Regions from separate parts of the Homo sapiens genome. Here region 2 is linked to region 1. Evidence: fine-mapped expression QTL. A gene starts in region 1. The other region holds a variant in brackets. All regions are shown on one strand. Distances are from middle to middle.

Region 1 (12,861 bases):
TCTCAAAGAAAAAAATAAAAGAAGCACCCTTTGTTACTCACCACCCCCCTACATTTTCATCATAGCATTATTTATTCATCGTTTATTGACTGATTCATGTTTTCCTCTATCTCTCTTCACAAACACACACAGAGTCACGTAAGCTCACTAAGGACAGGTATTTTTGTGTTTTGTTCATTGCTAGGTCCACAATTCCTAGAACAGTGCCTGGCACATAGTAGGCATCTGGCCAAAAAAAATTCTTGAACAAACAAGTGATGGAATAAATATAGACAGAGCTAAAGTCAGCAGGTAGAGGGGCTTCCAGAGGGCTCTGAGGCTAGCCCCTGCCTCTGCCCCTCACTGTCCCTCGAGGGAGCTGAGGCAATGGTGTGAAGGCATCAGGACGCGAACTCGGAAAAGCAGAAAAGCAGATAGGAGCTCTGACCCAAACACTGAAGAGCCCTAGAGGACAGGGGAAACTGAGGCACAGAGGGCTGCAGTAGCCTTTACGGAGGACCTTGTCCACACTCGTACTCCCCTACCTGCCTGGAAGCTCCCTGGAGGCAGGGCCAGGTTGGTCACCCAGATTATACCCCAGGGAGGAAAGAGACATGAAATCTCTAAGCCAGCCCTGTCAGAGGGAGGCTCAAAAGTTTTCCCGGAGTGCCTATTATGCACTGGCCACTGGCCAGTGCTTTATTTATTTACTTTTTTTTTTTGAGACAAAGACTTGCTTCTCAGGGAACCTCTAGCCAACCGTGGAAGCTCCCGTGAGGCAAGACCACAACTGTCGCAGCGGAAATGGGAAAGAAAAGTAGCTGCCCCCACCCTCTGCAGGGGCTGGGTGTGCGGAGGGGAATGAGAAAGTGAGCACATGGTCACTTCGGGAAGATAAGGGGACTGCTTCCAGGAGAGGTGTTTGGAGCAGGCAAAGGGGGAGGCAGGGAGATGAGGAGGGAGCTTCCAGGGAAAGATGAGGGTAGCCTCAGTCAGAGGGGCAGGGGGAGAGGGGAGAGGAGCAGGTGAGTCAAGAGATGTGGAGGAGGTGGAACATCCTTCCCTCCCTCCTGCTCTTCCATCTCGAGAGCTTCCAAGGCTCCTGAGCGTTGGGCATTTCCCCCGCTGTTCCCCCTTCTCCAGCGGCTCCAAACTCGAGCTCTCACTCCCCTTCCCTTCTCTCTCTTGAGCCTCTCACTGGCTCCAGCCCTCAGCTTCCCAGGGTCTTTCTCCAGCTCAGCCCCAAGCCTCCACGTCCCTCCCGATGGTCTGCAGGACCCCCTCACAGGGGATGCTCCTGGACCCGGCAAAAACCCAGCTCATCCCCAGCTCTTCTCCTGTCTGACTTTCAGTTCTGGGACAACTGTACCCTTCCTATTCCAGGTGACCTTTGCCCCCATACCTAGCCAGTCAGGACTCTCCTCAGACAGCAGGACACTCCAGTGACTACTTGTTGTCTCTTCCCCACCCTCACCAGGCCAGCCTCGTGCCGTTCCAGCCCAGACAACGGCACCACCCCATCTGCAGGCTCTCACCTGCCTTCCCTGAAGCCCGCCTCCAACCACCCACATCCCTGCCCAGGAACCTGCAGTGGCCCTGTTGCAATCAAAGCCTAAATTCCCATTTTCGAGGCTTTCTGGGACCGGAATGAGGTCAGCCCACCCTTCCAGACCCTGCCCTCACAGGAGCAGGTGCATGTACCCAGGCCAAAGCACACACACACCGCACCTACCTGCCTGCACAAGCCAGTGGCTCCAGGTGACCAGGAAACCGACACTCACCCTCCAAAGGTCCTTCCCAAGTCTATCCTTTCCCTGGGTCCCCTACAGATCCTGCCATCCTTCAAGCCCATTTCAAACGGGCCCTCATGCCTTTTTCCATGAAGCCTTCCCTGATTTCCGTGATGGAGGGCGAGGGCTTCCTCTTCTGAGCGCCTTGCTCCTCCCTCTAGGCTGGCAGCAGCAGGGCCGGCGTTGACCAGGGGCTGGCCCACCAGCACACTCGCTCCAGGGACTGCTGAGCACAGGGCCGGGCACACAGTCGGTGCTCAATAAATGTAGTGAAATGAATGAGTGTGGTCAGAGGCCTCAGTACGGCAAAAAAAAAAAAGCAGAGCTCTTTAGGTGGCCCTGGATTGTCTCGTGGCTTACATCAGAGCCAGCATGGAGCAGGGACACACACCCTGGCCCCAAGAGCCATGGGTTCCATCTCCTAAGGCAGATGTCACAGGAGTGAGAGTCAGAGGCCCACGCACTGTCAAAGCTGCAAAGGCTCTCTGAGCAAGCACAGTCCCTTGTTCTACATTTGAGAACACTGAGGTCCCGAAGTGGGAAAGACTTGCTGAAGGTTACATCAGGAGCCCAGCACAGAGCTGGGATCAGAACCCAACTCCACGCCGCTCTGCCACCCCCTTAGTCACACCAAAACCATCGGCTGACAGGTTACTGTAAGCCAGGCTCCATTTAAAACTCTTTAAATGCAGCAATCAGGGCCTCTGGCGGGGATACTCTTATTATCCCCATTTTCCAATGAGGAAACGGAGGCACACAGAGGTGAAGTGCGTTGCCTAAGGTCATGCAGTGGATAAGAGGCCTTTCTGGAATCTGAGTCAGGGCAGACTGCCCAGTGCCCAGGCAGGGATCCTCCCCTCCTGGAACTCCCCAGACGCATCTTCCCACCACGACAGCTCACACGACAGTAAATATGCACTGGTGAACTAATAATACTCGTTCTGTGTACTGAGCACATACTCTATGCTAGGCCTGGGGCCAAGTGCCTCACATATGCCAGCTCGTCTAAGCTGCCCAATGGCTTTATTATCCCATTCTACAGATGAGGAAACTAAGGCTCCAAGCCCCTAACTTGCCCAGGGTCATAAACACAGTAAGAGGTGGAGCTAGGGCTCCAGGCTCACTCTCTCATGCTGTCCCACCCTGCCAGACACTGGTCCCAGAGGTAAGGCTGCCACCCTCTCTGTCCTGGGAGTCAGGACCCAGCAGCTCACAGACAGACTGGCAGGTGCTTATTCGGGGTACCATGGGCTCGCCTTTGCCTGGCCTACCGTCTCCACAGGAGGGTGAGCTCCCCAGGGTGGGGGCTGCTCACCTCTTTCTTGGGATCCCCCAATAGCAGAGGGCACAGGGTTGGGACCCCAAAGAGTGCATAGCCCAACCAGGGGACTCCCATAGCCCCTATGCCCCTTCACGCTCAATCATGCCAACCTGGCCCTGGGGCAAGGGGACCATCAATGTTTTGTGTGGGTGTCACCCCAGGTCGGGCCCAGCCTCAGGATGACCCCATGCCCAGGACAGGAACTGCAGAGAGCCCCAGTGTGTGAGGAAGGTGCTGAGGGACAAAGGGGTGCAAGGTCAAAGGAAGGTTAGGGGTAAACCACAGGCCCAGCCTAGAGGCAGCCGGGCAGGAGGAGAAAGCGCCATCTGGAGTCTGCTTCCCGCCGCCTGGAGCTCAGAGGTGCAGCGATGCTCGGAGAGGGCAGAGTCCACGGGAGGATGGTGTGGGGGTGCCAGAGGGGCACAGAGCTGAGGGAGCGCCTGGCAGTCACTGAGGCTGCACCCTCATTCTGCAATGGGGAAGCTGTGCCTCAGGGAGGCCAAGGAACCCACTTAAGGTTGCACGGTGAGGAGAAGCCCAGCCTCGGGTGACAGCAAGTGGAGCCCAGGACCTCGAGTTTGAGCACCCCCTCCTGGGTCCTCAGGCACACCCACACGTGCCCTGTCGTTCATGACTCTGAAACTGGTCACACCCACGGATGCCTACGTCCCCACCACAGCCCTGCAAGGTGGGTCTTGCTGCCCCATTTGATCCATGCCAGAACTGAAGCCCGGAGCGGCTGACCCCAGCCATCTGATTTTCAGAGAGATGCTGCTGGGGACAGGGACTGGTGCCTGCTCTCTCTCTGCCTACACTGCCTGCCCTGAGCGCTCGGGGGTAGTTCAGCTTTTAGCCCTCCCTACAGCCCCATGAGGAGGCTCTAGTATGCCTCCTTTTTGCCAAATGAGGAGACTAAGAAACGGGTCAACCTCTCACCCAGGCGAGAAGGGCATAGAGCTGGGATTTGAACCTGGTCAGGTGCAGTTCGGGGCCCCTGCTGCCATCAGGGGTATATGGTGGCTGGGGCAGGGTGGTAAAGCAGGAGCTCGGGAGCCCATGGTTCATCCAACTTGACCTCTGAACTCAATGGGGCCTATGTCCCCTCGTCCTCTCTGGCCACCTCCACCTGCCACCCCCCTGCTCCCATACACAGTGCTTGTCTCTTGCTATTTAACTTCAGGGGCTTCTCCAGCTGGGTGCGGGACCCTGGCTGTGGGGGAAGGAAGGGGACCCTTGGGGATAGCTCAGCTCCTCACTCCACCTCCCTCCCCCGAGGTGCTACAAACACAGTTAAGAGTGGGAGGCTTCGGCCCCCAGGAGAGGAGAGAGCATGAGCTCCAGGCAGCCCCAAAGATAGGGTCCCATCCCCAATGTCCGGAGATGCTTCTGACCTGTCCAGTCATGCAGCCAAGGGAGGGACAAACCCAGACTCAAACCCAGGGCTCTGCCTCCAGCCTGGGGCTCCCAGAGGCCTCGCAGCAACTTCACTTCATAGATGGCTCTCCAAGGGGACCCTTCTGTCCCCACTTACTCCACAAGCCTCCTGATGAGCACGCAACACAGGGCTGCCTCCCCCGGTATATGGGCCCCACTCCACAGAGGTCAGGAGGGGGCTCCCGCCTGTCCCACCCCATATCCCGTACCCTCTCCGGGCACCCAGGCTATCCACCCATCCCTTCTCCACCTCTCCGGGTTGGGGGCCCAGCACACAGAGCCCAGGGAAGCCCCTCATCCCACAGCAGTCCCTAGCCTCCCCTGAATGGGTTGGGAAGGAGAGCTGACCTGGGACTGGGGACCGCTTTTTCCTCCAGCCAGGAGCCATGAGAGCTGGGCCCAACCCCTCCCTAGGGGAATTCTAAGACAAAGTTGGGGGATGGGAGTTCAGGCAGAAACTGCTGGGGGAACTGAGTCAGAGCTGAAAGTCTTCTCTGTGACTTTCACTCCCAGCCCTCTGGCTGGTCCACAGGGGCCGGGAGGGAGGCAGGGGGACATCACCTGGCTGAGACATGGGGCGGTGGCAGCGCGCGCTCTCCAGTCCTCCCCGGTGCTGGGACCGTGGCCATCTCTCCAGGGCCCTGCTGAGCTCTGGCTGCTGGGGCCGCAAAGACTAAAAGCCCAGAGCCAGCCCACTTCCTGTGCAGAGGATAGAGGGGCAAGGCCTGGGGTGGAGAGGCGGGGAGACGAGGCTTATGAGAAAGCCTGAAACTCCTCAAGCACCCAGGGCCAGATAAAGATCTGCCTCCTACGCTGGGGGCGGCACACACACACACACACACACACACACACACACACACACACACAGACACACATTGTCAAATAGGGGCCTAGCTGCACACAGGAGCCAAGGGAACGCAGGCCCTCCCTCTCTCCCCTCCTACATCACCCCCACGCCAACTCACACAGGCTACCCAACACCTCTGACGCCTCCATCCGGTCACACACATACCCACTAATACGTAGGCTTCACACAAGCAGGTCCCTCTAGGTGACCCCAGCGTCTCACCCTCCTCCCAGCCTGCAACACACCATCTTTCCGAGACTCCCATTTCACCCAGCCTTCCAGGAAGCCCCTTACTCCGTTTAGCATTCAGAGATGACTGTTTTTTTTAGTTTTTAATTTTGTGGGCATGTGGTAGGTGTCTATATTCATGAGGCACATGAGCTATTTTGATACAGGCATACAATGTATAATAATCACATCAGGGTAAATGGGGTATCCATCACCTCAAGTATTTATCCTTTCTTTGTGTTAAAATCCAAGTATACTCTTTTAGTTATTTTTAAATGTACAATAAATTATTGTTGACTAAAGTCACCCTGTTATGCTATCAAATACTAGATCTTATTCATTCGATCTAATTCTGTTTTCGTACCCAACAACAATCCCCACCCCTCCAACCCCCACTGCCCTTCCCATCTCCATCACTGCCCTTCCCATTTCCATGAATTCAATTGTTTTAATTTTTAGCTCCCACAAATAAGTGAGAACATGTGAGCTTTGTCTTTTTGTGCCTGGCCTGTTTCACTTAACATAATGACCTCCAGTTTCAAACATGTGGTTGCAAAGACAGGATCTCATTCTTTTTCATGGCTGAATAGTACTCCATTGCATATATGTACCACATTTTCTTTATTCATTCATCTGTTGATGGGCACTTAGGTTGCTTCCAAATCCTGGGTATTGTGAACAGTGCTGCAACAAATGTGGGAATGCAGATGTCTCTTCCATATACTGATTTCCTTTCTTCTGGGTATATACTCAGCAGTGGGATTGCTGGATCATATAGTAGTTCTATTTTTAGTGTTTTGAGGACTCTTCAAACTGTTCTTTATAGTGGTTGTACTAATTTACATTCCCACCAACAGTGTACGAGAGTTCCCTTTTCTCCCCACCCTCACCAGCATTCATTATTGCCTGCCTTTTGGATAAAAGTCATTTTAACTGAGGTGAGATAATATCTCATTGTAGTTTTGACATGCATTTCTCTGATGATCAATGATGTTGAGCACCTTTTCATAAACTTATATGTTTTCTTTTGAGAACTGTCTATTCAGATCATTTGCCCAATTTTTGATGGGATTTCTATAATTTTTTTCCATAAAGATGTTTGAGCTCCTTATCTAGTCCAGTTATTAATCCCTTGTCAGATAGTTTGCAAATATTTTCTCCCATTCTGTGGGTTGTCTCTTCACTTTGCTGATTGCATCCTTTGCTGTGTAGAAGCCTTTTAACTTGATGTGATCTCATCTATCATTTCTGCTTTGGTTGCATGTGCTGGTGGGGTATTGCTCAAGAAATCTTTGCCTAGTCCCATGTCCTAAAGAGTTTCCCCAATGTTCCTTTTAGTAGTTTCATAGTTTGAGGTCTCAGATTTAAGTCTTTAATCCATTTGGATTTGATTTTTGTATATGAAGAGAGATGAGGGTCTAGTTTCATTCTTCTGCATATGGATATCCAGTTTTCCCAGCAACATTTATTGAAAAGACTGGCCTTTCCCCAAAGGTATGTTTTTGGCAATTTTGTTGAAAATAAGTTCACTGTAGGTGTGTGGATTTGTTTCTGGGTTCCCTATTCTGACCAATGGTTCATTGGTCAATGCATCTGTTTTTACGCTAGCGCCACGCTGTTTTGGTTACTGTAGCTCTGTGGTATAATTTGAAGTCAGATAATGTGATTTGTCCAGTTTCACTCTTTTTGCTTAGGATGGCTTTGGCTACTCTGCATCTTTTGTGGTTCCATATAAATTTGACGATTATTTTTTCTACTTCTGTGAAGAATGTCATTAGTATTTTGATAGGGATTACATTGAGTCTGTATATTTCTTTGGGTGGTATGGACATTTTAACAATATTGATTCTTCCAATCCATAAACATAGAATATCTTTTTATTTTTTGTGTCCTCTTCAGTTTCTTGCACCAACGTTTTATAGTTTTCATTATAGAGATCTTTCACTTTTTTGGTTACGTTTATTCCTAGGTATTTTATTTTATTTGTAGCTATTCCAAATGGAGTTATTTTCTTGATTTCTTTTTCAGATTGTTTGCTGTTGGTACATAGAAATACTACTAACTTTTGTATGTTGATTTTGTATTCTGCAGCTTAACTGAATTTGTTTATCAGTTCTCATAGTTTTGTGGTGGCGTTTTTAGGCTTTTTGAAATATAAGATAATATCGTCTACAAACAAGGATAATTTGACTTCTTCCTTTCCAATTTGGATGCCCTTTACTTCTTTCTCTTGTCTGTTTGTTCTAGCTAGCACTTCCCAGAGATGACTATCAGGTCTTTGTGAACAATTTGATGGTCACTTACTGAACATTCTAGAACCTTCCTCTTCCTCTCAAGTCATGGTTCCTAACCCTTCTCCCCCTTTTTTGGCGGGGGAGAAGGGTGGCGTGGGAGCTCAGCTCAGGGCTCTTTTTTTTAAATGATGGAAACTTATGGATTGGTCTTTAGAAAAATGCACATCTATTTACGTGCTACATCACAGCCCCATAGACCCTGTGAAGTTCCATCCTCAGAGCCCAGAAGCAGCAGCTCTGCTTCTTCCCTTTCCTGATTCCCTGTTTCAGAGGGGTTTTATTGCAAGCTGTGGCCTCTTTTTTTTTTTTTTTTTTTTTTTGAGACATAGTCTAGCTCTGTCACCCAGGCTGGAGTGCAGTGGCACAATCTCGGCTCACTGCAACCTCTGCCCACAAAGTTCAAGCGATTCTCCTGCCTCGGCTTCCCGAGTAGATGGGATTACAGGCACGTGCTACCATGCCCGGCTAATTTTTGTATTTTCAGTAGAGACGGGGTTTCCCCATGTTGGCCAGGCTGATCTTGAACTCCTGACCTCAGGTGATCCACCTCCCTCGGCCTCCCAAAGTGCTGGGATTACAGGTGTGAGCCACTGCGCCCAGCCTGCCACCTCTTCTGAGAAGAAGAGAGAGAAGAGCAGAGACGGCAGCTCTGCAAATGTGAGAAAAGTGGAATTCAAGACTCCAAAAAGAGAATCAGGCCCAACTCCCATGTGCAAAGCCCGCTGCTGGAAAAGAAGAAGCGTGGAGCACTGCTGCCCAGGAGGGGCAGGACTGGAGATTGAGGCTGTGACTTAGGCCTCCCTGTGCTTCAGTGTGCAGACCTACCAAATGAAGGGAGAACTGGACAAGAAGGTGTGTATAAAGCATTTAATGTGACCACGCACTGCAGGCTTGCTGTAAGGGCCAGTTCCTTCCACACTGCCCTTCCCTCTCCTCTAGAGTAAGGCTGTCTGGCGGCAGGAGAGGATACTAAACACAACAGCCACAACCATGAGAATAACAGCCAACATTTATTAAGCCTCAAATATTCCCAGAAGCTTTGCAAGAAATTAGGAACGCCGGTTGTCTCAGGGAGGAGAGCCAGGTGAGGAAGGGTTAGGAAGGACGCTTTTCTCTATAGACCCTTTTGTATGGCATGAACATATTTCCTGCCCCCAAATAAATGAATTCAGTTAAAACTTTAAAAGCACACACATACAAAGAAAAGAAAAATGCATCCGCAGCCAAAGCCAGAAGTCACAGACCCAGCTTGCAAGGAGCAGCTGCGTACAGCTATTTCATCCATGAGACAGCATCAGTCTGCCTGGCACATACTGCCCAAGACTCTTCTTCCTCCTCATCCTGCTTTCCTTCTTTTATTTATTCAACAAACATTTACTGAGCACCCCAGATGCCCCAAAGACCAGGTCAGACACAGGAAGCCTGAGGCGCGCAGCCCAGGCCAGCGGGGTAGGACCAAGGGAGGGAGGTAGGCCACTCTCCACCCTCGTGCCCCTGAGATGTGCAGCAGCCAGGAAAGTGGGGAGCAGAATGGGGGATGGTGCAGCCCCCACATACAGAGTCTCCCACCCCAGGAGACAGGGGATGGAGCCGGTTTGTTCTTTTGTCAAGGGTCCTAGCCCAGAACACCTCAGATGGAGAGGCAGGGAGGGGGCTACGCAGAGAATGATTCTCCTTCACATCCTCTATGTAACACCTCATGGCCTGTGGGAGCACGTAGGAGGGAAACCTGGTGGAATGGGTCCCCAGGCCATGGCGTGCACCCTCCTCCCGGCATCAGCTCGGGTCTGCTTCCCAGCCTCCCTTGCAGTGAGCTGGGGCTCCAGAACCAAGTCTGGCTAATGGGATGTGGGAGGAAGTGATTTATTCTACTTCTAGGCCTAAAAAAAATCTCACCTATGATCTCCTGTGTCTCTTAATCCCTCTATCTCTCTTTTTTTTTCTTTTTTTTTTTTTGTTTTTTAGACGGAATCTTGCTCTGTAGCCAGGCTGGAGTGCAGTGGCGCGATCTCGGCTCATTGCAAGCTCCGCCTCCCCGGTTCAAACAATTCTCCTGCCTCAGCTTCCCGAGTAGCTGGGATTACAGGCACACACCACCACACCCAGCTAATTTTTGTATTTTCAGTAGAGATGGGGTTTCACCATGTTGGCCAGGACGGTCTCGATCTCCTGACCTCGTGATCTGCCTGCCTTGGCCTCCCTAAGTGCTGGGATTACAGACGTTAGCCACCACGGCCGGCCATCCCTCTATCTCTTTCTCTCTCTCCCCTCCCCTGCCAGAATCCAGTGAAGTTTTGGGTAGAGGGGCTGGAGTCCCTTGAAGGACAGGCCCTCACCCCTCCTCAGACAATTCACACTGGGCTATAACTTGAATGAAAAATAAACCTCTATTGTTGGGCCTCTGAGACCTGGGGACTGCTGTTTCTGTTTTCTCTGACTCATACAGTCTGTCCCCCAGGTGCTACAGCTGAACATAAAACCAGGTGAGGAGGGGTGAGACAGTACGCCAGCAGAAGCCCAGAGGCATGGGTGGCCAGCAGGGGTGTGCAGAGAGGTGCACCTGCTTTCTTCAGCCCCTGCCCTGCTCAGAGCCGTGTCATCTCCCACCTCAGCAGGCCCATGGTGGCCTCCGCCCTGGTCTCCCTGTTTCTATTAATACTCCTGACTCTCTGGTCTGTTCTCCACTCAGCGGCCAGAGCAACCTTTCCCAAACTCAAATCACGTCATTTCACCCCCCAGCCACTCCCCATCATACACACTCAAACCTTCCCAGTGCATTCACAGTAAAATCCAAACTCTCAGTCTTGACCCACATGTCCTACAGGGACTGCCCCATCTTCATCTCTGACCCTGCCTCCTGTGCTTTCTCACTCTGTCAGGGCTTTGTGCATGCTGAGCCTGCTCTTCCCTTGCCATTTTACAGGCCAGGAAACCAGGCCTCATGAGTCATCCTACCAGAATGTGGCAGAGCCAGGATTAGAACCTAGGTCTGTCCCAGAGGACATCCGATTCTCTCTGAGGCAACCTGAGATGTAATCCAGAAGCTTCTCTGATGGCAGAGCCCTGACAGAGCCCACTCGGGCCTACCCAGACCTGGGTCTCAGGAGTGCTGGGGTTTGGACCCAGCCTCCTCCACGAGCTCCACGCCTTGCTCCTATAACTACTTCTCTTACGTCTTCCACATCCCCACCTGACCCTCTGCGCTGCATCTTCATGGGTCCCACTGGGAACAAACCGCCTCATACCCTCTGTTTCCATGCACCCAGTCCCACAGCCCTCCCACCACTGGACCCAGACCCCTCTTTCACAGGGGCCATGGGACAAGGGCATATTGGGGTCTTCCAGCCCTGATGTCCTTGGGCTGTCTTTTTTGGGGCCAAGCCAGACTGCATCCTCCTCAGTCCTGGTATCTGCCAAACGCCCTACCCGTCCTCCCTCTGCTCACTGGAGTGCTTGGCCCTTGCGCTCAGCCTCCCTCTCCACTCCGCCTCCCAGGAGATGTCAGGGTCCACACTGTAGCCTCCAGCCTCCTGTTCCCTCTGAACTGCTCCATACCAGTCCCACACCCAGGCCTGCACTTGCACCCTGCCATCATTCTGACCTGTGTTAACCAAGACCCCTTGAACTTCCACCTCAGCTCACCCGCGTGCTGCCATCACCGCCTCCACTGTACAACAGTGTCCCAGTTAGGATGAAGTTCAGCTGCGTGTGTCCAAAGAGAACAGAAGAAGAAAACAGTGACCTAAAATAAGAGAGGGCTTTATTTCTCTCTTACATAAAAGAAGTCCAAAGGGAGGCCACCCAGGCTAGGTGGGGTGGCTTTATGATGTCAGGATCCTGAGCTAAATCTGGCTTGCTACTAGGGTCTCTTCAATATCCTTCTCCCATCTCCTCATAGACCAAGAGAGCTATTCAAGCTCCACCCATCACCTCTGCGTTCCTGCAGATGGAAGGGAAAGGAAGGAGAGAGGGAGGGCTTGCCTCTGCCTGTTAAGGACCCTTCCCCAAAGCTGCCGTAGCCACTTCTAATGTACATCCCATTGGCTACGCCTGAGTCACATAGCCAACCAAGCTGCAGAGGAGGCTGGGAGATGTAGCCAGCTATAAGTAGAGGGCACACGGGCAGGGGAGAGCAGGTTTGGGGGTGCCATTCACTGTCTCTGCCACCGCCTGTCCTCTGCCATTGTGAAGACCTCCAGTATCTCCAGGGCCACCTCCCTTCCTGCCCTCCCTGGCTCAGCCAGCTGACACTGTCACCCACCCTCAAGTCCTTGTGTTCCGCCCACCCCTGCTCGGTGCTGTGACCTGTCTTCTGGAAAGTCAGCAGGTAGCCGAGTCCCCAGCTGGAAAAAAAGTCCTGCCCCCACAGTGCCAGGCCTCACCAGTGACCTGGTTTTGAGTCCTGGTCCCTGGTCAGGAGGACTATGGTATACATAATTTGGTGTCTGACCCTCCGCCCAGTCCCCATCAGACTGTGGGGTACCCCTCATGACAAATGAGGATCACAAAGCTGCAGGGGCCCACAGAGGGGCCAGAGCAGAACAAGGAGAAAGAGCAGGCTAGCGGCCGACTTCCTGAGGGCTGTCCTCCGAGCATGCCCCTCTGCTGACACCTGCTCTTCACTGGAGGCGCCCCACCCACCAGTCCCCAAGACAGACTGTGGCCATTCTCCCTGACTCCTTCCCTCCCTCACCCCCTCCTTCCAAGCCATCACCCTTACTTCTGCTTTGCCACAGCAGCCACCTCCACGCCAGCCCCCCAGGCTCCAGACCTGAAGCCCCACGTTCTTCCCTGTTCATCCGGGAGCTGCCTGCTTCATAGCCACACCAGCACCAGCGCCCTGAGCAGCTCCTATCTTGTGCAAACCATGCCATTCCTTACCAGGATCGCGCCAAGGTGACCAGCTGTCCCACTGTGCCTGGGACTGAGGGGGGTTTCCAGAACATAAGATTTACAGTGATATTCCTA
Region 2 (15,641 bases), 26 kb before region 1:
TCAAGACCATCCTGGCTAACACAGTGAAACTCCATCTCTACTAAACATACAAAAAAATTAGCTGGGAGTGGTGGCAGGCGCCTATAGTCCCAGCTACTCGGGAGGCTGAGGCAGGAGAATCTCTTGAACCTAGGAGGCAGAGGTTGCAGTGAGCCGAAATCCACCACTGCACTCCAGCCTAGACGACAGAGCAAGACTCCATCTCAAAAAAAGAAAAAAGAAAGAACAAGAACAAAGATGTAAAAGAAATAGAACAAGTCTCAGTTGCTGCCCTTGAAGAAAGCTGCCAAGCCTAGGGAAACAGACAGTGGGACAGAAGCTTGGCAGGCACTTGGCCCCGCCCACCACGTGACAGCACCCGGTGGAGGACAGGACCCTCAGCAGTACATGGAGATGCTTCTTATGTGCTTGGAGGAATAAGAATCCACCAGAATGGCCTGTCACCAACAGGTGTGGGACCTCTCAGGAGTCCCCATCTCTGTGGCTTGTCTTCCTCCATCTGTACAGGGATTTAAGGATCCTAAGGCTTAGAATAATCTATGGCTTACAATACAGCTAACCAGACCCAGGATAGGCCTGATCTCCAATAAGAAAAATGGTCACTTCACCCATCTGAGGTGAGAAAGTGGAGTTTCAGAGCAGTGATTTGCTTGATGTCACACAGTCAGGAAGTGCTAGGAGCTGGATTCAAACCCAGGACCCTCTGGCTTCAGAGCCAGTTGTCCTTCCCAGTGACACCTTCTCCTGTCTCTGTGTTCCTTCCCACTGCCCACACCACCACTCCTGAGCCCTCGGCCTCTGTCTCAGCCCTGGGTCCTGGCCTCTGGCCTCTGTCTGAAGATGCTGCTAGGACAAACTCACCACCAGGCCCTGGCATGCCCAGTCGCTTCTTTCCCAGATGGGCAGTCGGGGTACAGATGCTGATCAGGGGTTTGGGGTTTGGGAGGGGCTGCTTCAAGCCACCTTGGGGACACAGAATGGAAACTCTGCATGCATCACTCAGCCTGACCTTCTCCTCCACTGTGGGATTGTAGCAGGTGGGGCTCCCAGAACAGATAGGGGGACTATATTAGTCCATTTTCATGCTGTTATGAAAAAATACCCAAGACTGGGTAATTTATAAAGAAAAAGAGGTTTAATGGCCTCACAGTTCCACATGGCTGCGGAGGCCTCAAAATCATGGCAGAAGGCAAAGGAGGAGTAAGGGCACGTCTTACATGGTGGCGGGCAAGAGTGTGTGCAGGGGAACTGTCCTTTACAAAACCATTAGAGCTCATGAGACTTATTCACTATCACAAGAACGGCATGGGAAAAACCTGCCCCCATGATTCAATTACCTCCCACCTGGTCCTTCCCACTACACGTGGGGATGATGGAAGCTACAATTTGAAATGAGATTTGGGTGGGGACACAGCCAAACCACATCAGGGAGCCAGACCCAGAGAGTGGGTGGAGACTACCCAAGGTTGCACAGCAATGCTGAGGCAGGGCTGGGACTGGAACCCAGGTGACCTGATTCCCAGCCTGTACTCTTCCCAGTATACTGTCCAAAAATGAATTCTAAAAACTAAAACAAAAGAACAATATTACTTATTTCCATATACATAAGGCTTTAGGCAGAGAGTCAACAAAAATTTCCAAAGGACACAAAATTGCAATTTTCAACTTTTTTTTTTTTTTTTTTTTTTTTGCCTCAAAACATTGCAGGCAGAGCCTCCTCTAAAGACAGTCCGGTTTGTGGGACTAGCTCTTGCCCTTGAAGGGGGCCCTGTCCAAGGTCACAGACACCTAAATTTCCCCAAGGAGGCTCTTTCCTGCTGCCCTTTCATGGGAAGACCCCAGCACTCACTCAGGTTCCCCGAGTACCTCTATTCTCCTTGGTCATCTGTGTCAGACAGCTGTTGACTTGGTGGGCCCGAGAGAGCTCCTGATACCAGTCGGCTCTGTTGCCTCTTCCCTCCACGTTGGTTTCTCAGAACCTTGGTCATTCCAGGTTTTCAAAGCCTCTAAGTAACTTCCCCTCCCACCTTTCCTTCCTTCCTTTCTCCTTTTCCTTTTTCCCTCCTCCCCTTTGCCCATTTACCAACCTACACATCCATTCAACGAACAACCTGTGGCAGGTGCTGGGATTCAATAATGGATGGATCACGGAGGATCGAGGATCGTTAACTGGAGAGAGTTGCAGCTGAGCTCAGCAAGCAGGGGGTGGGGGCACGGAGCAGCCAGCACACCTGGGGTCAGGAAGAAGTGATCTTTACAATAAATCCCGCAGGATGCTCTTCCTTTCTCCCTCCCTCTCTACCGTGCAGACACATTTTGCTTGGCTTGCTTGTTTTCTGTTTTTAAAAGATGAGTGGCCAATATTTAAAAATAAGGACACTTTGCAGGAAAAACTGAATTTTCAGCTTCTCTTAAAAATGTAGAAGATCAGGCCTGCGCAGTGGCTCAGGCCTGTAATCCCAGCACTTTGGGAGGTGGAGGCGGGCGGATCACCTGAGGTCGGGAATTCAAGACCAGCCTGACCAACGTGGAGAAACCCCGTCTCTACTGAAAATACAAAATTCGCCAGGCGTGGTGGTGCGTGCCTGTAGTTTCAGCTACTCGGGAGGCTGAGGCAGGAGAATCGCTTGAACCCGGGAGGCTGAGGTTGCGGTGAGCTGAGATCACGCCATTGCACTCCAGCCTAGGCAACAAGAGTGAAACTCTGTCTTAAAAAAAAAAAAAAAAGTAGATGACCTAGCTGATCCCCAACATGGCAACAATCAGCGATGGCTGCCCTGGAGCAATTTCGGTTTGACACAGACCTCACCACTCCCTATTGTATCACACTGCATGGGTTAAAAAGAGTTACTAGAGTCAGGAGCCTGAGTTTGAGTCCTGGCTCCACCACTTATTTGGCCACATGCCCTTGAGCTACAAGGTATTTGATTTTACTGGGCCTTCATTTCCTCATATAGAAAATGAGACAGTAAGCCTAAGTGTTGTGAAGATTGACAGAACCTGTGTGAGGAACTTAGAACGGGGCCCGCATCTACTGGGTGTACACCATCAGCATTTCATCACTGCAGCTAATATCTACCCAAACCCCAGTCCCTGTCAGCATCTGAGTTTGGGATCCCAGCAGCAAAGGTTTCATTGTTAGTTTCATATTTGCATAAATTACAAGCAATAGAATTCTCTCGCCAACATGTACCGTTCCTGGCTGATTGCTCGGACTGACAGTGTAACGGGTGCTCTCCTACACCCACTGTTACGAGAATCACTGGACCGTTGGCCGGGGACGGCCAGCCACCCACCATCAAGCCCGTTCCAAGCAACCCGAGCTCTCTCAAACCGAAATGTCCAATTTGAACAGTCCAGTGCACATAGTAGAAGCTCAATAAATAGATTAGAATGAATGAGCAGTAGTTACTGGGCACAGGGTGGGCTATCTTTTTTTTTTTTCTTTTTTTTTTTTTGAGACAGAGTCTCACTCTGTTGTCCAGGCTGGAGTGCAGTGGCGCGATCTCAGCTCACTGCAGCCTCCGCCTCCTGGGTTCAAGTGATTCTCCTGTCTCAGCTTCCTGAGTAGATGGGGCTACAGGCGCAGGCCACCATGCCCAGCTAATTTTTTTGTATTTTTAGTAGAGATGGGGTTTCACCATGTTGGTCAGGCCGGTCTCAAACTCCTGACCTCAGGTGATCCACCCACCTTGGCCTCCCAAAGTGCTGGGATTACAGGAGTGAGCTACCGCACCCGGCCTTTGAAATTTCACTTCTTCACCCCATTTTAGATGAAGAGACTGAGGCTCAAAGGGGCCAAGTGGTACAGAATTGGGAGGGACAAAATGTCCTCGGCCCTGAGCTAGGCGGGTGGCAGCCAGCACGGCTGGATTTGAGAGGTAGGAAGAAGACCTCATAGGTTTCCTTCAGCATTTGTCACACCTCCTAGAATCTTGTCATCATAGATTTGGGCCTTATCTCAAACCATCATCCCCCAAGACCTACCCAGGTGCTTGAGGGAGATGAGCTGTCAGGATTAGGAGGTTGGAAAGGGCAGGGAGGTGGCAGGAGACACCAAGCCTGCAGGTGTCCAGCTCATCCCCTGCCCCAAACAGCCATCACCAACACAGCAACAGAGTATCCAAAAGGCCAGCCAGCAAGTCAGCAGCTTCCACATCTCTGGCCCCTGGCTGCCCTGGTCACAGCCCTGTCTCTGTCTGTCTCTCCCACGGCTAGCTCTTCTCTCCTAAGTACTTTACATTAACTTACTTCTTTTTTTGTAACAGGGCCTCACTCTGTTGCCCAGGCTGGAGTGCAGTGGCACGATCAATGCTCACTGCAGCCTCAATCTCCTATGCTCAAGGGATCTTCCCACCTCGGCCTCCCTAGTAGCTAGGACTACACGTATGTACCACCATGCCCGGCTAATTTTCTGTATATATTTTTTGTAGACACAGGGTCTCACCATGTTAGCCAGGCTGGTCTTGGACTCCTGGGCTCAAGGGATCCTCCCACCTGGACCTCCCTAAGTGCTGGATTACAGGTGCAAGCCACAGCACCCTGCCACATTCAATTATTTCTTTCATCCTCACAACAGTCCTGGTATTGTCCCCTTTTACAGATGAGAAAACTGAGGCACGGAGAAGCTTAGGTATTTGTCCAAAGTCACAGCTGATAGGCAGCAGGGCCAGTACTTAACCCAGGCTGCGGGGCTCCAGAGTGAGGGGGCCAGTACTTAACCCGGCTGCGGGGCTCCAGAGTGAGGGGGCCAGTACTTAACCCGGCTGCGGGGCTCCAGAGTTAAGGCTATAACCACTATGCCACACTGCCCCAAGGTGTCCACAAAGGCTGAAAGTGTAGAATGAAGGGGGCTTTGCTCGCTGCTGGATCCCCAACACCGTGACTTGCAGGTACTAGGCCCTCCTAAATGTCTGTTGAATGAATAAATGAATGAATGAACAATTCCTTCCTCTTCTAAGAACCATCCTCAAGCAGCTATCCAAAACTACCTGAACTCTGGCTCAGCCTCTCTTGCTAAAGCCCCGCACGGCATTCCACAATTCCTCCCCAGGTTAGAAGACTCCACCAGAGTGTTCACTGGCACCATTTCCTGATCAAGGCTTGTGCTCACAGGACCGGGTTGATTTTCTTCCACACCGAAGGAGGGCTGTGATCAGCTGGTCTACTTGTATGTGTCCTCCAGAGTCACTCCCTCCCAGACAAGGTTGGAGACTCTTTGTGGACAGAGCAGTAGCCGGCCTCCTCTCTGTGGCCAGTGCCCAGCATGAGGCCAGGTAAATAGAGGAATGGGAGATGAGACATTGTCTGCCAGCTCTGCTCCTCCCTCCGTCTGCATCCTGGCTTCCTGGAATCGTAGACTGGGCACTCCCCCCTCCACTACCCGACCTGCGTCTCTCACCACTCAGCGCTTCCTGCCTCACTTTCTGCCAGGCTCTGTGATGGGAGCCTCGAGTGTGTCATAGCCCTGGTGGTGGAAAATGTCTCTAAGCAAGTCAGCCTAGGGGATGTCCCAGGCCTGTCACAGGTGCTGGTGGTGAGCTCAAATTTAATCAACACTCCCTCCCCCACTACCAAACGCACTGTGTGGCCCGGGACACGGCACCGCCATCCCCTCAGGGCCTCTGGGCCTCTACTGAGGAACAAGACTTAGAACCTCTGTCATTCCTATCTTGGTAGGTCACTGTGTGTTTGTGTGGGATACCAGGGGTGCACACCCTTTAGAAGCTGTAAGAAGCTGTGCCATGTGGGTGCTAAATATTGCCTGGGTTCAACTTGCTCCACTACATTCTAGCTGTGTGATCATGGGTAAGTCACTTGGCCACTCTGAGCCATAGGCTCAGCTATAAAATGGGCTAAGAATAGTACCTCCCTCATGGCATTTGCTTAAGGATCCAGTGAGTTAAGGATGCTTCCAGAGAGTGGAAGGATCAATGTGCTTATAACAGAGTCTGACGCATCTAAGTGCTCAATACATGCAGTTCTCGAAGACTTTGAAGGACCGAGAACATTCCACAGTGGCTCTCACAGATCCTTGACCCCAAAGCTGTCCCTCCCCCACTGCCTGTTGATAAAGCCCAAATTGTCAAATAGTGGCTGCTAATCTGCAAGAACAATTCCTCTCTCTTCCAAGCACCATCCTCAATCAACTATAACCAAAACTAGCTGAGTTCCAGTTGAGCCCCCTTGCTAAAGCTCCACCCAACATTCCACCCTCCTTCCCCAATTAGAAGGTCCTTTCAGAGTCTTCTTGTGCCTGGCTTTTCTGACTAAAGTCTTGAGCTAACGGGGCTCTACCTGATGTTCTTCCAAAGCTATTAGTATCACCCTTAGATCCCCAGAATCTAGCCCAGGCTCTGACCCACGGCACAACAGTTGGTTATAACAGAGGTAGCTCAGGAGGGGGACAGTAGGAGGAAGTAATCTACTCTACTTGGGGGCAAATCAGAGGGCCTGCCAGAAGCAGAGATGCTTGAGTGGGGTTCTGAGGGATGCATAGGAACCTGAGGGTAGATAGCTTGGGTGGCAGGGCAGGGCTACTTCAAACCCAGGGATCAGCAGGTGCCAAGCAAATGAGTCAGTTGCAATCCCTACTCTCATCCCCACCCCCCAACCCCAGCGTGAACTCTTGATGTAAAATACATGTAGCCCAGGCCTTAAGCCATATTCCATGTGGCACCTGGAACCACAGAATGTCAGGGCTAGGAGAGCACTTAGAAATCATCCAATCTGCCTGCCCAATTCACAGATGGGGCAACTGAGGCATAAGAGCAGATGGGACCTCCCCAAAGTCCCCCAAGCCATGGACGATCACATTAAGGACCTCAGCCATTATCCTGAAAATGACAGTGGGTCACTGGAGGTTTAGCAAGGATGTGGTGTGGCCAGATACGACCTTTAGCCAGATCAGCCTGGCAGGGCTCAGAGGTGGAAGGATCAGAGGGGCAGGCGGCTGTGGGGACAGGCAGACCGAGGAGGAGGCTGAGCAGGCATACGAGTGAGAGGTGATGGCGTCAGGTCTGTGGCACGGAGGTCACCAGGGTGGGGGTGGGAGAAGCCAGTGAAATGCTGGCCCAGAGGGACACTGGACCAGCTTGGAGGGTGGAGGCAGTAGGAGGGGCTCAGCAGTTACGGAGGAGGAGGAGGTAAGACCACCTCGGCCTGACCAACCAGCATCGCCCTCAGCCTTCTCTCCTGGCCACCGTTCAGCCCCATCTACCTGCCAAACTATCAAAGGGCTTTGCTTTTTCTCCCACAATCACACTAATGGATCATGGCATCTTATTTTCCCCCCGAAGTTGACTGCCAGGAAGCTTAGAATGAAATTTTACCAGGTATTTTCCCATTAGTATAATTATCTCCTATGTAGCCTTCTGTATGCTAAGGGCCAAAAGCTCCGGAGTCAGATGTACCTGAGTTTGAATCCTGATGCTACCAACCATCAGCTGCGTTGCTCCACCTCCCTGGGCCTGTTTCCTAATCAGCAAAATGGGGAATAAAGCACCTGCTTCTCAAGGTTGTTTCCAGATGATGAGAGATGACGCCCAGGCCATGCTGGCACAATGTGTAGAGTGGAAGTATTGGTTCTCTTGCCCCTTCTTACTGTCCTCCTTGGTCTGTTTTTTCAGCTGTCAGTAATGAGGAGGACAGTGGTGGGTGCTTCATCCTGGACCTGGGCCTACAGTTTCCACCATAATTTACTTGGGAAATGCAGGCACCTGAAGTTGCTTCGAATGAGAGATGGGAGGTGGGGGAACGGAGGAAGCAAAATAACAAACCTAGTTCAACAAAGAGGAAACATGAGAGGCTGGAAGGCCCCCCCCTCCCCCCACCTCTCCTCCTTTTTCTCTTACCCCCAAGATCTGCCCTGGCTGCCTCCTGCTTCCCGCTCTGTACCTGACGGTTCTCCAGGGCCCCAGCGGCTGCCCGGTCCCCAGCTGGTGCCGCTCCTGTCTCCTGAATCTGACCCAGGCCCCTCCTGCAATCTGACCACCACCCCTGCCGCCAGCTGCTTCCTCTTTGTCTCCTCTCCCAAGATCCACACTCGGATCCACACTGGGCATGACACACAGTGACCGCTGGCCCATCCCTTCATCTGCACCCGGTATAAGGTGGCCCTGACTCTGCTCCCTGCCAGCTCAAGTCTCTCACCAGACATGGTGGGGACAGCTGGGCTCCCTGGGCTTGCCTCTCACAGGTCCCTCTCAGCTTTCCAGTCTCCATCCTCTCAGCTTCAGTTTTCCCTGCCTGGGAAATCGGAGTTGGGAAACCTAAGAGCTCCTTTTGTGTTAGGAACCTGAGGAATTATGCGGTCCAGAGATGTCATCAGCTATCAGCTGTGACCAACTGGGGGCTGCCTATAGCGCAGCATTGCAGAATCTGAAGCTGCACCCAGGCTCTGCAGGAGGAGAGCTGTGTTCAATTAGAAATGTCTGCCGTGCATGGGTGCAATTGATTAGTAATGTCTGCCATGAGTGTGGCTTTATGAATGCCAGGAATTGCCATCCCTGGTCTGGTCCAACTTTTATCAGGACACTATCTATCTATCATCTATCTACCTATCTGGAGGGAGGGGGATAGAGGGGGGGGGAGAGAGAGAGAGAGAGAGAGAGAGAGAGAGAGAGAGAGAGAGAGAGAGAGAGGAGAGAGAGAGAGATTCGTCATCAAGTGCAATATTTCCCCAGGCATAGACTTGTGGGATATGGCCATGAGCTGATACCTGGACACAGAATAAGACAGACAGTCCTGACTCCTATTAGTGAAAAAGATATTCCCTTTACAATCCTTTTCCTTTCTCTCAAGGAGGAAGTTTGCATTTGGCCCTGGGATGTCTTCGACAGCTCCCCAGCAGCTTCTCATTTCCCCTTTAAGAGACAACAGGTTTACCGCAGGCAATGAATATCAACACTATTTTGTTGCATTGTACTTATTTTGTACAGTTACCTTTTATTTATAGCGAAAATGGGTTTTTTCATTTACAGAGTAACAAAGATTTTTCTTTAAATAAATGTATTTCAACGAAAATGAACTGACTTAAAGAAAAAATATTAAGGAAATAATCACAAAGATGGTACACACGGATCATTAAAAGATACGGATGTATAGATACATATGTCACAAATGATTAAGACTTAAAAAATGTAACCCTCCCAAGAAGTGGGAGCCTCCCAAAGTGGAGAAGGCAAATACAATTTCCATTTGGGGGGATAAGGAGACCGACTTGCAGAGAGGATTAGTAGGTTGCCCCAGAACACACAGCAAAGGTGTGGAGCCCCTTGTGGTCTGAAACATTCAGGACCCTATGGCAGGAGGTGAGACTGTCCAATAATTCAGCTTTTTTCAAGGCATAGACCCAAGACTCAGACAACCTCAAGAAAGGGGAGTTTATTTTGGATATAAAGGCAACAGGAATCCTGACCAAATGGTCAGCAGCCCTCTCAGCAGTAGGTATTTTTGTATTGGGAACCCAAGGTCCTCTGCTTAGTGGCTCAACGCTTGTCTACCTTTCCAAGGCTCAACGCTTGTGGAGCCTTGTCCACAAGCACCTGCTCCCAAGGGCCTCCCTCCCTGAGTTCAAACGCCCAAGACAGAGTTGATCTGATTGGCTAGTTCAGGCCCAGCCTACCTGATTGGACAGAGCTTGGTGCCAAACCCCCTCATAGGCTGCTGGTCAGAGCCTGTGGGGGCGTGTGGTCAGGTGCCCAATCAGCTGTGAGCAAGGCCTGTAAGTGCAGGTGCCTGAGGGCTCCCAGGTCAGAGTTAGCTGGGACTGGGGTCACTGTCCTGCTGGGGTGGAATGTTGTTTGAGCCATTGCAACGTGATCTGCCTAGGAAAGATACGTGGAGGGGTCGGGGTAGGGGGTTGAGCCCCTTGCAGGAGGGGGCATGCCAGACCTAATGGGCACGGGACTCTGCCTCTCTGTGTGAATGTCAGGCGCAGGGAGCCCAGACGAGGTGGTGCCAGGTAATTAATTCGTTCATCCAGGGTATACGACGGGGTGTTGGGCACTGTGTCTGGGGCAGTGAAAAATAATGAGGCCCTGCCCTGTGGAGCTGCCCTTCTGGAGGCCAGTGTGCCAGTCCCTGAGCTGCAGAGGAGACCCCTCCAGTGGAGGGGGCAGTGGGAGGTCCCAGGCCTGGCAGCATCAGGGCCCACCACTAGGCGGGGCTGCTGCCTGGGCCTCGGACTCCAGGGTTTACTCCCCATCAGCTTCTCTTGTGGGTCTGTGAAGCCACTGTGGGAAGATGCAGCAGGCATCCACTTTGTGGGGGGATCTGTGCCCTTACTTGGGCCCCAGCATTAAAGATACAGCAGCCAAGCACTCTGAGGCCTCAGAGATCCCAAAGGAATAGTAACAGGGCCTCTTTCTCCAGGCGCCCTGGGTCCCTGACAGCTTCTCCCTCCAGCACTGACGCTAGAAGTTTCTGGCAGATTAAGGGAGGCAGTGCTTCCCTCCAGGAGAAGCAAAACCGGCACTTGAAGAGTCAGGGAAGTTTGTCACCTAGATGAGGGGGAGCGCACAGCAGCCCCAGGGAATAGCATGTGCAACAGAGGGGGTGTGAGGGAGCTCTGAGTGGCTCAGGAGGACGGTAGGGAGGATTGCAGAAGGGGATGTCCCCACACGACACCGGAGGTACAAGTACCAGGCTGAGAAGTGGGGCTGAGGGCAGTGGGACCTGTGCAAGGTTTTGAACCGAGGGGGAGCGTGGCCATATTTGGGTTTTGGAAAGCACGCTCAGGCTGCCCTGTGGACGGGGAGGGGAGGGAAGGAGGAGGCTGGGGCAGAAAACCCAGGGAAGAGGTCAGGGCAGGGAGCCCTGGAGAGCCGCGAGGACTGATATTGGTGAATAGCTGCAGGGCTGGAGAGGAGCGATGCTTCTGAGCCTAAATTCGTGGGATCCTGTGATTAACGAGGGAGTTGGGGAGTTACTGCCCCCCTGCAACACACACAGTTCCTGGCTCGGGCAGCAGGACCCGGGAGCAGCAGTGGAGGTTTGGAAATGGATGGACCAAGTGTGCAGGACTGGGTGGGGGCCATCCGGGTGGAGAAGTCCAGCTGCAACTGGACACTGAGT[G/A]TCCTCAGCAGTGGACTGAGGACCCTCAACAGGGTCCTTCTGAGGCTCGGCGCAGAGCAGGCAGCTGCCTGCCTCCCACCCTGGCCATCTGTCTACACCAAGTGAGTTGGGTCCTGACCCTGGAGTTCTTGGAGGGACAAGTAGGCATCAGTGTTCAGGGGCAGGCGAGCATTAAGGGCCCTGAACTCCCCCTGCCCAGGAGGCCTGGACCAGGGGAAACTGACTCCCTCCCTGGGGCCAGCGTCAGGGACCTCCTCCCCAGCCTCTCGCAGCACCAGCTCAGGGGGTGGCTGAAAATCCACCAGGTCTGGGACTCCTGGGGTGGGAGGCCCCAGGGGCTGGGGGTCCCAGTCTCTGGGGACTCTTTCTTGCAAAGAAGGGGGCATCCTCTCTTCACCGGCCCCACTGCCCCCAGGGGCAGTGCTTGGGGGGCTGGGGCCACCGAGGAGACTGGGGGAGAAGAGCAGCAGGTCATCCCTGGAGGGGAAGGTGCAGTAGGCGTCGTCCTCCCCTGACAGAGGCTGCAGGGGTTGGGGGGAAGACCCTGTGGGTGCCCCGGCCACACCCTCATCAGGGTCTTCCTCTGAGTAGGGGTCGTAAGTAAAGTACACCTGGCAGGCCTCTATCTCCAAGGCATCCGGGAGGTGGAAGAAGAAGTAACCCTGGTTGGTGAAGCAGCTGGTCAGCGAGTGGTTGCTGCTTAAGGATGCGGGCTCAGGCACCTTGTCCTGCTGCAGGAGCAGCTGCGTCACCTTGTCCCTCTCCAGCACTTCTAGTGGCGAGATCTCAGGTGCCAGGCCGCCAGGGCTGAAGGACGATGAGGGGAAGGGCGAAGAGAGCCACTTCTGGTGGGAGAAAGGCCAGGGGTGGGTGAGTGGGGGCTTCCTTCACCCTCCACCCCTTCCTCTGGACTCTCAACAGCTCCTAACTCCTCCTCCTCCTGAAGCAGTTGGCCCAGGGCTGCCCCATCCAGGAAGCTCTCCCTGATTATAGCCCCGCACTCCCCCAACCCACCCACTGGCTTGGGGGCCCTCTGGGCCACCAGCCCAGGGACACTGCCTGACCCACAGCCCAGCACAGGCCTGCCTGGCTGCCAGTAGTGCCCAGGAATGTCTGATTGCTCAAGAGTGACTGTTTATTGGACACCTGCTATGAGCCTGGCACTGTTCTAGATGCTGGGGACCCAGGAAAGGAGAGAATCCTCAGACTGTCTAGTGGGCACTAGCACAAGTGTGGGAATCGATCCACCCATGCCAAAGCAGAAGGGCACTGAGAGTACAGCCTGTTCACCCTACAGATGCCCAGAGACGGGACATGCCCTGGCCCTGATCACAGACCAGCAGGCGGCAGAGCTGGGACCCAGGGTCTCCGCTTACACTGTGGTGGGAACGTCTCTTGGGGGAGCTGATGGTTTCCTGATTCACCTTTCCCCCAGTTCCCTGCAGTCCCCACCCCCACCCCCTCCGCCTCCCATCCCCAGAGAGAGGAAAGTGCCCATCAGAGCACTTCTCAGTTGCTCGGGATTCCAGAGAGCCCTGGCAAGGAGTGGGAAGACCCGGGTTCTAGCCCTGGCCCTGGCACTCACTAACTGTGTGACCCTGGGAGGGCCCCTGCACCTCTCTGGGCCTCAGTTTCCACAACAGCCACGTCTCTCCTGACTTCCTTGCTGTCACCCATCAGGTCACCAAGGAGACATCAGGTAAGCAAATGGAGATGTAAACACCCAAAACGGGTAAGACACAGACTGCACAGCAGAGTGGGGGACAGCAGGCCCTCCTGGTGGTGTGGCAGGGGCCTCGGGTGGGTGAGTTTGGGAGCCCTGACAACCCTCTGTCCTGGGAACCCTCAGCAGCTGGACTATGGCCCCCTAAGCACAGGGGCCAGGCCCAATGGGCTCCCCAGGCCTCTGTGCCCAGCATGGCGGGTCTCATGGATCTATTTCAGATGAATTAATGAACCAGCAACAAATGCCCAGTTCTCCTCTCCAGGGAGAGTCCCTGAGGCTGAGCCAGCTGCTCCGCAGACACACACACACACGCTTACATGCATGCACACATGCACACACGTGCACACACCACTCAATTAAATCCGCCCCCTTTCTGCAACCAGGAGTTATGTCACAAAAGAAAAGGCTGAGAGAGGCAGAAAGGATAAACTGAGGATGGCAAAGAGGGTCGCTGGCTGGGCAGAGAGGAAGAAGCACTGGTCGGGTGAGATTCATGATACCCAGGGCAAGGGCGGGGCCAGACAGCAGCCCTGTGTGTGCAGCCAGAGAGGGAGCGGCCAGGCCTGTGGCCAGTGCCGGTGAGCCAGGGACCCACTGCCTGTGGCCAGCTACTTCCTGGGCCTGAGCCTCTGCCCACAATGCCCTGAAAGGGGCTTCAGGAGACACTCACGCCCCTCACACATACTCCCACACTCGCACACACGTTCCACGATCCCCTGGGAAGTGGGGGTGGGCCTTGTGGCCCCTGTGGGTCCTAGGGTGGAGGGGTAGGTCTCTCACCCAGATGCAGAAAAGGTGGGGCCTGCTTTGCCATCCCCAACCCCCAGCCACATCATGCCTTCTTCCTCAGGACCCCGCTCCACACACTAGACCCAAGGATACCATACCCTCATGGGAAGCTGGAATGGTTTGCAGCTCCCACCTCACGATGTTGTAGGTTCATAGAATCAGGACTTGAAGCTGGAAGGTATCTGAGCATGCAGCTAATCTACCGCAGCCTCCAACCAGTTCAATGGGAGAATCTCTATGCTTCTGACACATAGGCAACCATGGCTTGCTTGAATACCTTTATAGATGGGAATCTTGCTACCCTCAAGGCTGAGGGAAGAATTTTAAGGAAATACATTCCCGCACATTAAGAGTACTGCAACTAATGGCCAGGCACGGTGGCGCACGCCTGTAATCCCAGCACTTTGGGAGGCCGAGGCGGGCAGATCACCTGAGATCAGGAGTTCAAGACCAGCCTGGCCAACATGGCAAAACCCCGTCTCTATTAAAAGTACAAGAATTAGCCAAGTGTGGTGGTGTGTGCTTGTAGTCCCAGCTACTCGGGAGACTGAGGCAGGAGCATCGGTTGAACCCAGGAGGCAGAGTTTGCAGTGAGCTGAGGTCGTGCCATTGCACTCTAGCCTGGACGACAGAGCAAGACTCCATCTCAAAAAATAAATAAATAAATAAATAAATAAAAGCACTGCAACTAAGATATTCTCATCTTGGGAGTTTTCCAAGGAGTTCCAGAAGGGGCCCTTGATCAGCCCTGATAGAGAACTCCAAAGCCAGGTCATGACAGCTCTGGTCCGGCATGGCTTTCCTCCTCCGCCACTCTTCTTGACCTCCCTCTGCCCCTACCTCATCCCCACCCCCCAATCTTGGGAGCCTAGAGTGGGGCTAGGGTGGTAAAAAGTACCCCCCATGTCCCCCCTTCATTCTTGAAGCTTCCTGCCTGAAGGGGGCATGGGCTGGGGAAGAGGAGACGACGGAATCTGAGATGGAGTTTAGAGCGTTACTGATCTGCGGGCCGGCACTTTAAAAATGAATCGGTGTTTTGTGACTCAAAGTGACGGGAAGACTTGTTAGTATCCACGCTAAGTTATGGAGCCTGCTCAGGAATTTTGAGCAGGGACAGGAGAAGCACAGAGCATGTCTGCACAGACAGTGGGGTGGAGAGAGCTTGTGCTGGCAGGTCCTGTTCGTTCAGCACACCGGCAACGGTAATACCAGATAGGGTACTTTTTTTTTTTTTTTGAGATGGAGTCTCACTCTGTCGCCCAGGCTGGAGTGCAGTGGTGCCATCTCAGCTCACTGTAACCTCCGCCTCCTGGGTTCAAGCGATTCCCCTGTCTCAGCCTCCTGAGTAGCTGGGATTACAGGCATGCACCACCAGCCCGGCTAATTTTTGTATTTTTAGTAGAGACAGGGCTTCACCATGTTGGTCAGGCTGGTCTCGAACTCCTGACCTCGTGATCTACCTGCCACAGCCTCCCAAAGTGCTGGGATTACAGGCATGAACCACTGCACCCAGCCTGATAGGGTTCTTTTGAACACTAACTGCGTGCCAGGCAATGTACTCAGGGCAGGACACATAGTAACACTGTTTTTCTCCTCATCTAACAGGTGGGGAAACTGAGGCCCAGGGAGGCTCTATAGGCCCAAGGTCACACAGCCAGAATGTGGTGGAGCTGGGATTAGAACCCAGGCAGTCTGGCTCAGATGGAAAGTGCCAGAGCTGGAGAAGAGACCCATGCACACCCCGGAGGCTGCTCACTTCGGCGTTTTGTCTCCTCTCACAAAACACAAAATTAGCTACTAACCTGCCACCCCCTCATCCCACTCACACCCCTGCCCACCTCTGTCTCCCCGCCCCGGCCTCCTACCTGGACGTCTCCTCCATGCTCTGAGCTCAGCTGGGAAAAGAACTTCGAGGGGTCTGGGGTGTTACACTTCAGGACCTTCTTCAGCCTGGACAGAGGAGAGGAGGGAAGGAGGAGGGTGAGAAAGGGAAGGACCGCGGTGTTATGCCATCGGCACCACAGCTCTGGATGCCAGGCACGGAGCCGCA

What was found. PIP is the estimated chance that this variant, and not a neighbour inherited with it, causes the effect.
Region 2: its variant is fine-mapped to the expression of IL2RB in whole blood (TOPMed, PIP 0.98).

The regions. Positions count from the first base shown.
Region 1 is chr22:37,144,740-37,157,600 of GRCh38, forward strand. IL2RB (interleukin 2 receptor subunit beta) reads right to left here and starts at 5,177. Exons shown (of 10, transcript NM_000878.5): 1 at 5,086-5,177. RefSeq lists enhancers at 3,464-3,513, 5,217-5,239, 5,322-5,353, 5,436-5,547 and a promoter at 5,087-6,042.
Region 2 is chr22:37,116,928-37,132,568 of GRCh38, forward strand. It overlaps IL2RB (interleukin 2 receptor subunit beta), which reads right to left. Exons shown (of 10, transcript NM_000878.5): 9 at 15,457-15,541; 10 at 8,916-11,921. The coding sequence ends at 11,169. Among named protein-coding and RNA genes, the nearest start is that of TMPRSS6, 15 kb to the left of the region's middle. RefSeq lists an enhancer at 10,221-10,270. The variant G/A (reference allele first, on the strand shown) is at 11,077.